Linked DNA regions of Homo sapiens. Each later gene encodes a partner of the first gene's protein in a complex. Each region holds a gene or a part of one and is shown on either strand. Other genes may lie near its edges. The genes, in order: GINS1 and MCM5.

Region 1 (3,684 bases):
GTTTCACCGTGTTAGCCAGGATGGTCTTGATCTCCTGACCTCGTGATCCACCCGCCTCGGCCTCCCAAAGTGCTGGGATTATAGGCGTGATCCACTGCCCCTGGGCCAACTTTGTATTTTTTAGTAGAGACGCGGTTTCTCCATGTTGGTTAGGCTGGTCTTGAACCCCCGACCTCAGGTGATCCGCCTACCTTGGTGTCCTAAAGTGCTGGGATTTCAGGCATGAGCCACCGTACCCAGCCCCTTAAGTTTAACTTTCAACTACTTACTTGTTGGAGTTTGAAAACTAATCAGTGCTACTTTTTAATGATACAAGAAATAATTTCAAATTCTTTCCCAATCATTTATTTTACTCTTTCTCCATCCCTTCTTGTCCCCTCAGCACTTTTTACCTCGATGGAAATGTGAGCAGCTGATCAGACAAGGAGTCCTGGAGCACATCCTGTCATGACCATGCGCCGAGGCACTTCCAGGCTTCACTCAACTCATGGACTCCTCTGTACTCACTCTCTCCACCACTCCCTTCACCTCCCTCTTTGATTTTAGAAGCTATAGACATTGTTTAAGATAACTAAGAATACTTGGCTAAGAAGTATAATTTGCTAACTATTAAGGACTTTCTTTTTTTAATGTTGTACACTATTCTTCCTACTCTTTTTTGGTTTTGGTTTTGTTTTGTAGAGACTGTCTCACTATGTTGCCCAAGCTGGTCTCAAACTCCTGGCCTCAAGCAGTCCTCCCACCTTAGCTTCTCAAAGTGTTGAGATCACAGGCGTGAGCCACTGCACCCGGCCCCTACTCCTTTTTCTAATAAGCTGTATCTGTAATCACAGCATTCCTACAGTTGTTACAGTGTGTTTTTTAAATGAAAGTAAACATGGTTACATTTGAATCTCTTAAATAAGCAGTCACTTGGCTGGACAGGAAGAAGGTAGATCCTGTGTGTCTTGTTTTCTGGTCATGTGTATTGTACAAGCTAGAGAGCTGAATTTCTGAGATACACATTTTCAAATCACATGCAAGTGAAGATGATGGTCTGTAGAAATTTTCAGTATATATAATGTTTAATGACATACTAATTTATCATCTGGCTATTTGGGAAGGAAGGACACACATGGATTTTGCACATTTCCACCATGGTGGCTGGTGTGGCTTGTGGCTATGGGGTGATCACCAGTATCACCACTTTGGAAGGGGACAGTGAAATTGGGGCTAGAGAAGGAACTTTGTACAGTTTTCCCTGAGATTCAGATTGACTGAAAAGTCACATGAAGAGTTGATTGTCTTTTAATGGTATGTTTTAAACAGCTGACATTTTAAATTTTGATGAAATCCAGTTTATTCGTTTGTTCTTTTATGCTTTGGGTGTTGCATCCGAGAAATCTTTTCCCATCCCAAGATCACAATTTTTTTTCCTTTTTACTTCTAGAAGTGTTATAATTTTAAGCTTTATACTTTGGTCTATGACCCGTTTTTTTTTTTGTTTTGTTTTGTTTTTTCGTTTGTTTCTTTGTTTTGAGATGGAGTCTTGTTCTGTCACCCAGGCTGGGGTGCAGTGGCGTGATCTTGGCTCACTGCAATCTCTATCCCCTGGGTTCAAGTGATTCTCTTGTCTCAGCCTCCCAAGTAGCTGGGATTACAGGCACAGGCCGCCACGCCTGGCTAATTTTTGTATTTTTAGTAGAGACAGAGTTTTACCATGTTGGCCAGGCTGGTTTCAAACTCCTGACCTCAAGTGACCCACCTTGGCCTCCCAAAGTTTTGGGATTACAAGTGTGGGCCACCGCGGCCAGCCTATGATCCATTTTGAATGAATTTTTTATATGGTGCAAGGTGTCAATCCACCTTCACTTTTTCTTGGGAATATAGATATCCAGCTGTTTCACTACCATTTTTTGAAAGGACTGCCCTTTGCTCTATCACCTTTGCATTTTTGTTAAAAAGTAGTTGTCAATGTATATGTGGGTTTATTTCAGGACTCTGTTTTGTTCCATTGACCTGTTTTTCTCTCCTGAATGCCAATACCATATTTGTATGTAGTGTATGTAATTTTCTAATAATTCTTGAAACAGATAGTATTAATGTGTCATATTTTTGCTGTTGTTTGTATTTTTTGTAGAGATGGGGTTTCACCGTGTTGGCCAGGCTGTGTTGAACTCCTGAGCTAAAGCAATACACTTGCCTCGTCCTCCCCATGTGCTGGGATTACAGGCGTGAGCCTTGGTGCTGGCCCAGTGTACCACATTTCTTTTTGAGATTTGTTTTGGCTATGTTAAGTCCTTTGCTTTTGATGTGAAATTTGGGAACAGGCAGGGTGTGGTGGCTTATGCCTGTAATCCTAGAACTTTGGGAGGCCTAGATGGGTGGATCACTTGAGCTCAGGAGTTCCAGACCAGCCCGGGCCTATGGCAAAACTCCGTCTCTACAAAAAATAGAAAAAATTAGCCAGGTGTGGTGGTGCATGCCTGTAGTCACAGTTACACGGCAGGCTGAGGTGGGAGGATCACTTGAACCCCAGAGGTCAAGACTGCAGTGAGCTGAGATCACACCACTGTACTCCAGCCTGGGTGACAAAGTGAGACTCTATCTCAAAAAGAAATTAGGATCAATTTGTCAATTTCTACAACAACAACAACAAAAACCCCTGTTGGGCACCTTGATTGAGATTGCATTGAATTTATATAAAACTGTTGGGAGAATTGACATCTTAATAATATTGAGTCTTCTGGCCTATAAACAAGGTCTGTCTTCCTAGGTATTAATGTTTTGTCTTCTATTTCTCTTAATAATCTTTTGTAGTTTTCAGTGTACAGGTCTACCATGTCAGCATTTCATAGTTTTGATGCTAAATGGTATTTTAAAATTTCAAATTCTAACCACTTGTTGCTAGTAAATAGAAATACAATTGATGTTGAACTTGTATCCTTCAGCCTTGCTAAACTGTGAGTTCTCATGGTGTTTTTGTAAATTACATCAACAGTCATGTGTTCTATGAATAAAGAGTTTTACTCCTTCCTTTCTAATCTGAATGCCTTTTATTTCTTTTTCTTGCCTGATGGCATTGGTTAGAACTTCCAGTAGAGTACTAAATATATGTGGTCAAAGACACCCCTATCTTGTTCCTGATCTAAGAAGGAAAACAGTCTTTCACTATTATGATGTTTGTTAGCTCTTAAGTTGTTTGTAGATGCCCTTTATTGGGGTAGGAAGTTCCTTCCTATTCCTAGTGATATGGTTTGGCTGTGTCCCTACCCAAATCTCAACTTGAACTGTAATAATTCCCATGTGTCAAGGGCAGGGCCAGGTGAAATAATTGAATCAAGGGGGTAGTTTTCCCCATACTTTTCTGGTGTTAGTCAATAAGTCTCACGAGATCTGATGGTTTTATAAATGGGAGTTCCCCTGGACATGCTCTTTTGCCTGCCACCATGTAAGACGTGACTTTGGTCCCTATCCATTTGCCTTATGCTGTGATTGTGAGGCCTCCCCAGCCATGTGGAACTGTCAATTAAATCTCTTTCCTTTATAAATTACCCACTCTCCAGTATGTCTTTATTAGCAGCATAAGACGACTAATACACCTAGTTTACTGAGAATTTTTTTAAAAGTCAGAAATGGATGCTGGATTTTGTCATATCTTTTTTCTGCATCTGTTGAGATGGTTTTGTCTTTTAGTTTGTTAGT
Region 2 (7,153 bases), on another chromosome or scaffold:
ACCATGCCCGGCTAATTTTTTGTATTTTTAGTGGAGACGGAGGTCACAGGTTTCACCGTGTTAGCCAGGATGGTCTCGATCTCCTGACCTCGTGATCCGCCCGCCTTGGACTCCCAAAGTGCTGGGATTACAGGCGCGAGCCACCGCACCCAGCCTAGAATCAGTATTTTTGAAAAGTACCTTAGGAGAGTCCAACGCGCACCCAGGTCCAGGAGCACGTATGGTCACGTATGCAAAGCATAGGCATTCAAATAGCAGCTGGAGCTGGGCACGGTGGCTCACGACTATAATCCCAACACTTTTGGGAGGCTGAGACAGGCGGATTTCTTGAGGCCAGGAGTTTGAGACCAGCCCGGCCAACACAGTGAAAACCTGCCTCTACTAAAACCACAAAATTAGCTGGAAGTGGTGGCGCATGCCTGTAATCCCAGCTACTCCGGGGGCTGAGGCAGGAGAATCACTTGAATCCGGGAGGCTGAGGTTGCAGTGAGCCGAGATCGCACCAATGCACTCCAGCCTTAGCAACAGAGCAAGACTCTGTCTCAAAAAAACAAAACAAAAACCCAATAGCAGCTGGGACTCTCCTGCCCTGGGCCCAGTTTCCTCATTTGTGAAAGGGGAATAGATATTCATTGTACTGACAAAGAAAGGAAGGAAGAGGGGAGGGGAGAGAGAGAAACTATCTTGAATTTTACTAATAGGAGAATGGCTGAATAATTTTTTCCTATCAATTGTCGAACAAAGCCAGACACTAGTTAAAGTGGTAAGGACGACCGGGCACGGTGGCTCATGCCTGTAATCCCAGCACTTTGGGAGGCCGAGGAGGGCAGATCATGAGGTCAGGAGTTTGAGACTGGCCTGACCAACATGGTGAAACTCTGTCTCTACTAAAAATACAAAAATTAACCGGGCATGGTGGCGCGTGCCTGTAATCCCAGCTACCAGGAGGCTGAGGCAGGAGAACTGCTTGAACTTGGGAAACGGAGGTTGCAGTGAGCTGAAATTATGCCACTGCACTCCAGCCTGGGTGATAAAGCGAGAATCCGTCTCAAAAAAAAAAAGTGGTAAGGACAGATTTTAATCAGTAATGATTATTGCAACAGGGAAGAGAGTTCAGTATGAACTGAACTCAGCTTTAATTTGTATAGAGGTATTTTAAAGGGAGGTTGACCAGCCTGGGCAATATGGTAAAACCCCATCTCTACAAATGAATAAATAAATTCGCCGGGCATGGTGGTGAGGTTGAGGTGGGAGGATTGCACGAGCCTGGGAGGTCAAGGCTGCAGTGAGCTGTGATTGCACCACCGCACTCTAGCATTGGCAACAGAGACCCTGTCTCAAAAAAATAAATAAAAAAAATAAAGGAAGATTGAGGGAGGAAGGGGTGGGCAAGTGATTAGTAGAGTCAGGGAAGTGAAATATTACAAAAGGTTAAGTCAGTGTAAATGCAGTGAGGCTAGCTGTGTCTGCCAGTTGGCAATGATCAAAGTTAGAATTTTTGCCTCCCACAGAGCCTGGGAGACAGAGGTCACATCCTCGGTTGTTGCCTGGAATAAACGGTAAACATTTACCAGCAGCCTTGAGTTTTCTCAGGCAGGCACCTTAGCGGGGGCTGGCTAGAGTCATTTTAGAGATGTTAGCAGCTGTTAGAAACTGTTAGTGTTTGTTTAAGTCTTTTTTTCTTTTCTTTTTTTTTTTTTTTGAGATTAAGTTTCACTCTTGTCGCCCAGACTGGAGTGTAGTGGCACGATCTCGGCTCACTGCAACCTCCGCCTCCCAGGTTCAAGCGATTCTCCTGCCTCAGGCTTCCAAGTAGCTGGGATTACAAGCGCCTGCCACCACGCCCGGCTAAGTTTTGTATTTTTAGTAGACACAGGGTTTCACCATGTTGGCCAGGCTGGTCTTGAACTCCCGCCTCAGCCTCCCAAAATGCTGGGATTACAGGTGTGAGCCACGGCGCCTGGACTGTCTTTTTTTTCTTTTTAGAGATGAGTCTCGCTCTGTCGCTCAGGCTGAAGTGCAGTGGTGCAATCAAAACTCACTGCAGTCTCAAACTCCTGGGCTCAGGCCATCCTCCCACCTTGGCCTCTTGAGTAGCTAGGACAACAGGTGTGCTCCACCATGCCCAGCTAATTAAAAAAAAATTTCAAGCCGGGCGCAGTGGCTCATGCCTGTAATCCCAGCATCTTGGAAGGCTCAGGCGGGTGGATCACCTGAGGTCAGGAGTTCAAGGCTGGCCAACATGGTGAAACCCTGTCTCTACTAAAAATACAAAAAATTAGCCAGGCGTGGTGGCACACACCTGTAATTCCAGCTACTTGGGAAGCTGAGGCAGGAGAATTGCTTGAACCCAGGAGGTGGAAGTTGCAGTGAGCCGAGATCGTGACACTGCACTCCAGCCTGGGCAACAGAGTGAGACTCTGTCTCAAAACAAAAAAAATTATAAAAAAATTTCTAGAGAAGCGGGATCTTGCTATGTTGCCCAGGCTGGCCTCAACTCCTGGACTCAAGGGATCCTCTCATCTTGGTCTCCTGAAGTGCTAGGATTACAGGCATGAGCCACAGTGCCTATAGATCAAGGTTGAGGCTTAGAAGTGAAGGGAGCCCAGAGGAACCTGGCTAGAGTTTGGTCAAGGAGAGTCTTTGTCACCATACTACAGAAAATTAAGCAGCTGTTAAACAGAATGAGGCCGGTCTGGGCATGGTGGCTCACGCCTGTAATTCCAGCACTTTGGGAGGCCGAAGCGAGTGGATCACTTGAGGCCAGAAGTTCGAGACCAGTGTGGGCAACATGGTGAAACCCTGTCTCCACTAAAAATACAAAAATTAGCTGAGCATGGTGGCGCCTGCCTGTAGTCCCAGCTAGTTGGGAGGCTGAGGCAGGAGAATCGCTTGAACCGGGGAGGCAGAAGTTGCAGTGAGCCGAGATTGAGCCACTGCACTCCATCCTGGGGGACAGAGTGAGACTCCCTCTCAACAAATAAATAAACAAATAAAAGCAGTGTGTTAGGGTGCGAGAACCCGGGTCGGGGACGCGGGTGAGCCGCGCGGTAATCGCCCTGTCCTGCCACCAGCTGGAGGACAGGGGCTCCTCAGAGCCTCAGGCCCAGAGAACGGGCCCCACGACCGGGAAGCGAATACTCCACAGGGCACAGTCTCCCAATGCAAAATGGGCACCTGGACCCAATCATTTCTGAACTTCTAGTTTTTTCTCCCTATGGCTATGAAAAGGGTCATTTTTTTTCATAGGACTTTAAAAGAAGGCTTAAGAAAAGCACGCAGGCCTGGCCGGGTAGCTCACGCCAGTAATCCCAGTGCTTTGGGACGTCAAGGCAGGCGGGTCGCTTGAGAGTAGAGTTTCGAGACCTGGGCAAGATGGTGAGACTCCGTCTTTATGAAATATTTTAAGAAAATCACGTACACCTGTGGTCCCCGCTACAAGGGAGGCTGAGGCGGAAGGATTGCTTGAGCCCAAGAGGTTGAGGCTACAGTAAGCCGTGATCCAGCCACTGCACTCCATCCCCGGCAACACAACGAGACCATGCGTCAGGAAAAAAAAAAAAAAACCAAGAAAATAAAAAAGAAACCACCTAAAGGCGTCCTCCGCGCGCCCGCCCCTCCGCCATCTTTGCGTCCGCCCCGTCCTGCGCCGCCACTTCCTTCCCAGCCAGAAGTTTCGCGCCAAATTGTTCCGCACACAAAATGGAGCCCGGAAGGAGGCGAGGTCATGCACTTTGCAGCCAATCATCTTCGGCAGACAGTCCGGGCGGCGGGGCTGGAGGGCTCAGAACGGTCCAATCGCTGGCCGCGAGGCTCCGGCGAACCAATGGGAGCGCAGCGGCTGCGGCGTCCGAACACCGCCTCTTGTTTTTCCCGCGAAACTCGGCGGCTGAGCGTGGAGGTTCTTGTCTCCCCTGGTTTGTGAAGTGCGGAAAACCAGAGGTGAGGCTAGTGGGAGTGGGACTGGGACTGGGAGCCAGCAGGCATCTGGATTTCCGGGTGTAGTTGGAGTGGGACAGGAGTTTCTCGGGAACTGGGGTTGGAGTCCGGGAGCGCGGCCGGGGGTCCCCCTGCTCCGGACTCAGGGCAGGGACCCAGGCGTCGGAGGGGAGGAGGTGCCAGGCGCTGCCCCCAGCCTGTTCTGGCCGTTTGTTCCCACCCCAGGCGCAGTCATGTCGGGATTCGACGATCCTGGCATTTTCTACAGCGACAGCTTCGGGGGCGACGCCCAGGCCGACGAGGGGCAGGCCCGCAAATCGCAGCTGCAGAGGCGCTTCAAGGAGTTCCTGCGGCAGTACCGAGTGGGCACCGACCGCACGGGCTTCACCTTCAAATACAGGTGCGGCTCCTGCGGGGCCGGGGGCTCGAGTTCCAGTGTGGCCGCTCACACGCCTCTACCAGCCTGCTAGAGTCCTGGACAGTCAGGGCACAGATGGGCCCAGACGGGGGAAAGAGCCGGTCCTGGGTCACAGGGCTCATCCCGGCAGCCTCACGCCTTGGTATAAGGCTTTGTGTATTTTGTTTTACTTTATTTTATTTTATTTTATTATTAACGTATTTGTTTATTATTTTGAGACGGAGTCTCGCTCTGTCGCCAGGCTGGAGTGCAGTGGCACGATCTCGGCTCACTGCAACCTCCGCTTCCCGGGTTCAAGCGATTCTTGTGCCTCAGCCTCCCGAGTAGGTGGGACTACCCCCGCCATCACCACGCCCGGATAATTTTTTGTAATTTTAGTAGAGATGGGGTTTCGCCATGTTCGCCAGGCTGCTCTCGAACTCCTGACCTCAAGTGATCCACCCGCCTCAGTCTCCCAAAGTGCTGGGATTACAGGCGTGAGCCACCGTGCCCGGCCTGCTTTGTGTATTTTATCTGTACCTGGAGTTAACTTCTGGGTGAGTCACCTGTTGAGTGGGCCACCAGCAACCAGCTAGCGCCACTTGGACCGTTTAGTTCTTTATCCAGATCTTGTTCCTGTTCATCTGCTTCCTATCATCCTTCCATGTCATGTCTGAGACCTTACAAACTCAAGTTCCCTGTAGGTGTAAAAGGTGAAGATGGCAGTTAGGATTCACTTCACTTCGCTCATTCATTTATTTATACCAGTCTTGCACCTTCATTGATTGAGCACCTGCTGCCTGCCAGATACTGTTCTGGGTGCTGGGCTGCAGCACTGAAGCTGGACCTGGCTCCTGCTTCTAGGTGATTGTACGACCTGTGACATCATGAGAATTCTCATAGGCCCGGCCTCTATCCCTGAAATGTTAAAATGCAGAGAACATGAGGTTGCAGGTTCAGCACTGGCCCATTATTAGCTGAGTGACTTCCAGGTGTCAGTGTCTCTGGGCCTCACCAGGCCAGAAATGGGTAAAGCCATTCCTGCTTTCACTTACTCATGCAGCAGCTGATATTGCCCACCTGTGTGCCAGGCACTGCGCTACAAAGATGAAAAGACGTGCTTCTTGTCCTAGAGAAGCTCCTAAGTCAGAGGAGTGAGTCGTGAAGACCAACAGATAACTTCCACGGTGGTCATTTCCTCCACAGAGGAAGGTGAAAGGACTTAGGGAAGTTTTCCGGGGGGCTGAAGTTTGAGGGGACCTTTGAGCTAAGGTCAGAGTTGCAGGTGTAGAAAGCTTTCTGTCTAGGTAGGAGCAATTGCTTGTGTAGAGGTGTGGGGTGTCCTCACAGCAAGTGGCTTTCAGTAGCAGTCTGGCCATTTTACTGGCTCCTGGACATAAGGGAGACGGGGCTCAGGCCTGTGATACTGCGAGGCTGGGGAACAGCCTGTGCGTTGGTCAGTGGTCCCCAAATATGTTCTTGCCACAGCAGTCACATGGGATGCTCTGCTAAGCATCTGGGCTGGACGCAGTGGCTCATGCTTGTAATTCCGACGCTTTGGGAGGCTGATGCCAATGGATCATTTGACCCCAGGAGTTCAAGACCTGGCTGGGCAACATAGTGAAACCCAGGCTCTATTTAAAAAAAAACAGTCTGACTAGAGGTTGATAAGGCAGATGTGTTTTCTGCTGCCTTGGTGCCTCCAGTTTTTTTGTTGTTTTGTTTTTTGTTTTTTTTTTTTTGAGATGGAGTCTCGCTCTGTCACCCAGGTTTGAGTACAGTGGCGTGATCTTGGCTCACTGCAACTGCTGCCTGCCGGGTTCAAGTGATTCTCCTGCCTCAGTCCCCCAAGTAGCTAGGATTACAGGCATCCGCCACCACACCCGGCTAGGTTTTTTTTTTTGTATTTTTAGTAGAGATGGGGTTTCTCCATGTTGGTGAGGCTGGTACCTTTTTGGTTTTTTTTTTTGAGACAGAGTCTCAGTCTGTCGCCCAGGCTGGAGTGCCCTGGCGAGATCTCTGGTCACTGCAGCCTCCACCTCTGGGGTTCAGGCATTCTCATGCCTCAGTAGCTGGGACTACAGGCGTATGCTACCATGCCCGGCTAATCTTCGTATTTTTAGTAGAGACTGGGTGTTGCCATGTGGCCCAGGCTGGTGTTGAACTCCTGGCCTCAAGTAATCCACCCTCCTCAGCTTCCTAAAGTGTTGGGATTACAGGCATGAGCCACCTCACTGGGCCCCAAGTTTGAGCTGTGTGCATTGTTCTTTTCCAAGAGAAGTTAAAGGCTCTGCGGAGTCCTTCAGTGACAGAACTGGTTTGTTGTTTTGTGCACGCTGGCCTGGGTGTTGAAACATCCTTTGACTGTCTTGTGGACCCCTTCCATGGAGCTTTCTTTAGGGCATGCCTGTGCCAGCAGTGAGTAGCCTCTGCAGGGTTAAATAATGGAATGATCTGGAATTAGATGTGTGTTTGGGAAGAGGAATGGTGAGGTCATGGTGGCTGTGGTGTGGGCAGATTCAGGGGTGCAGGCACACCTCAGCCAGTGTTGGTTTCCTCTTCTTTGCACCCTTCCTGCCCCACCCTGCTATGTGCCCACTCCAGGGATGAACTCAAGCGGCATTACAACCTGGGGGAGTACTGGATTGAGGTGGAGATGGAGGATCTGGCCAGCTTTGATGAGGACCTGGCCGACTACTTGTACAAGCAGCCAGCCGAGCACCTGCAGCTGGTGAGTGGGACCCCATCCCTGAGCTTCCCAGGGCTGCTCTGCCCCAGTTACTAATAGCCTGTGCCCTTCCCTTTCTCCAGCTGGAG

What was found.
Region 2: GINS1 (region 1) and MCM5 share a complex: the UniProt entries of both Homo sapiens proteins name them as parts of the CMG helicase complex.

Annotation. Positions count from the first base shown.
Region 1 is NC_000020.11:25,445,541-25,449,224, forward strand, and holds the end of GINS1 (DNA replication complex GINS protein PSF1), read left to right. Parts: intron 1-382; coding exon 383-451; 3' UTR 452-3,023; downstream 3,024-3,684. UniProt on the Homo sapiens protein: Required for correct functioning of the GINS complex, a complex that plays an essential role in the initiation of DNA replication, and progression of DNA replication forks.
Region 2 is NC_000022.11:35,396,267-35,403,419, forward strand, and holds the start of MCM5 (DNA replication licensing factor MCM5), read left to right. Parts: upstream 1-3,873; 5' UTR 3,874-3,942; intron 3,943-4,164; 5' UTR 4,165-4,172; coding exon 4,173-4,339; intron 4,340-6,940; coding exon 6,941-7,067; intron 7,068-7,147; coding exon 7,148-7,153. UniProt on the Homo sapiens protein: Acts as a component of the MCM2-7 complex (MCM complex) which is the replicative helicase essential for 'once per cell cycle' DNA replication initiation and elongation in eukaryotic cells.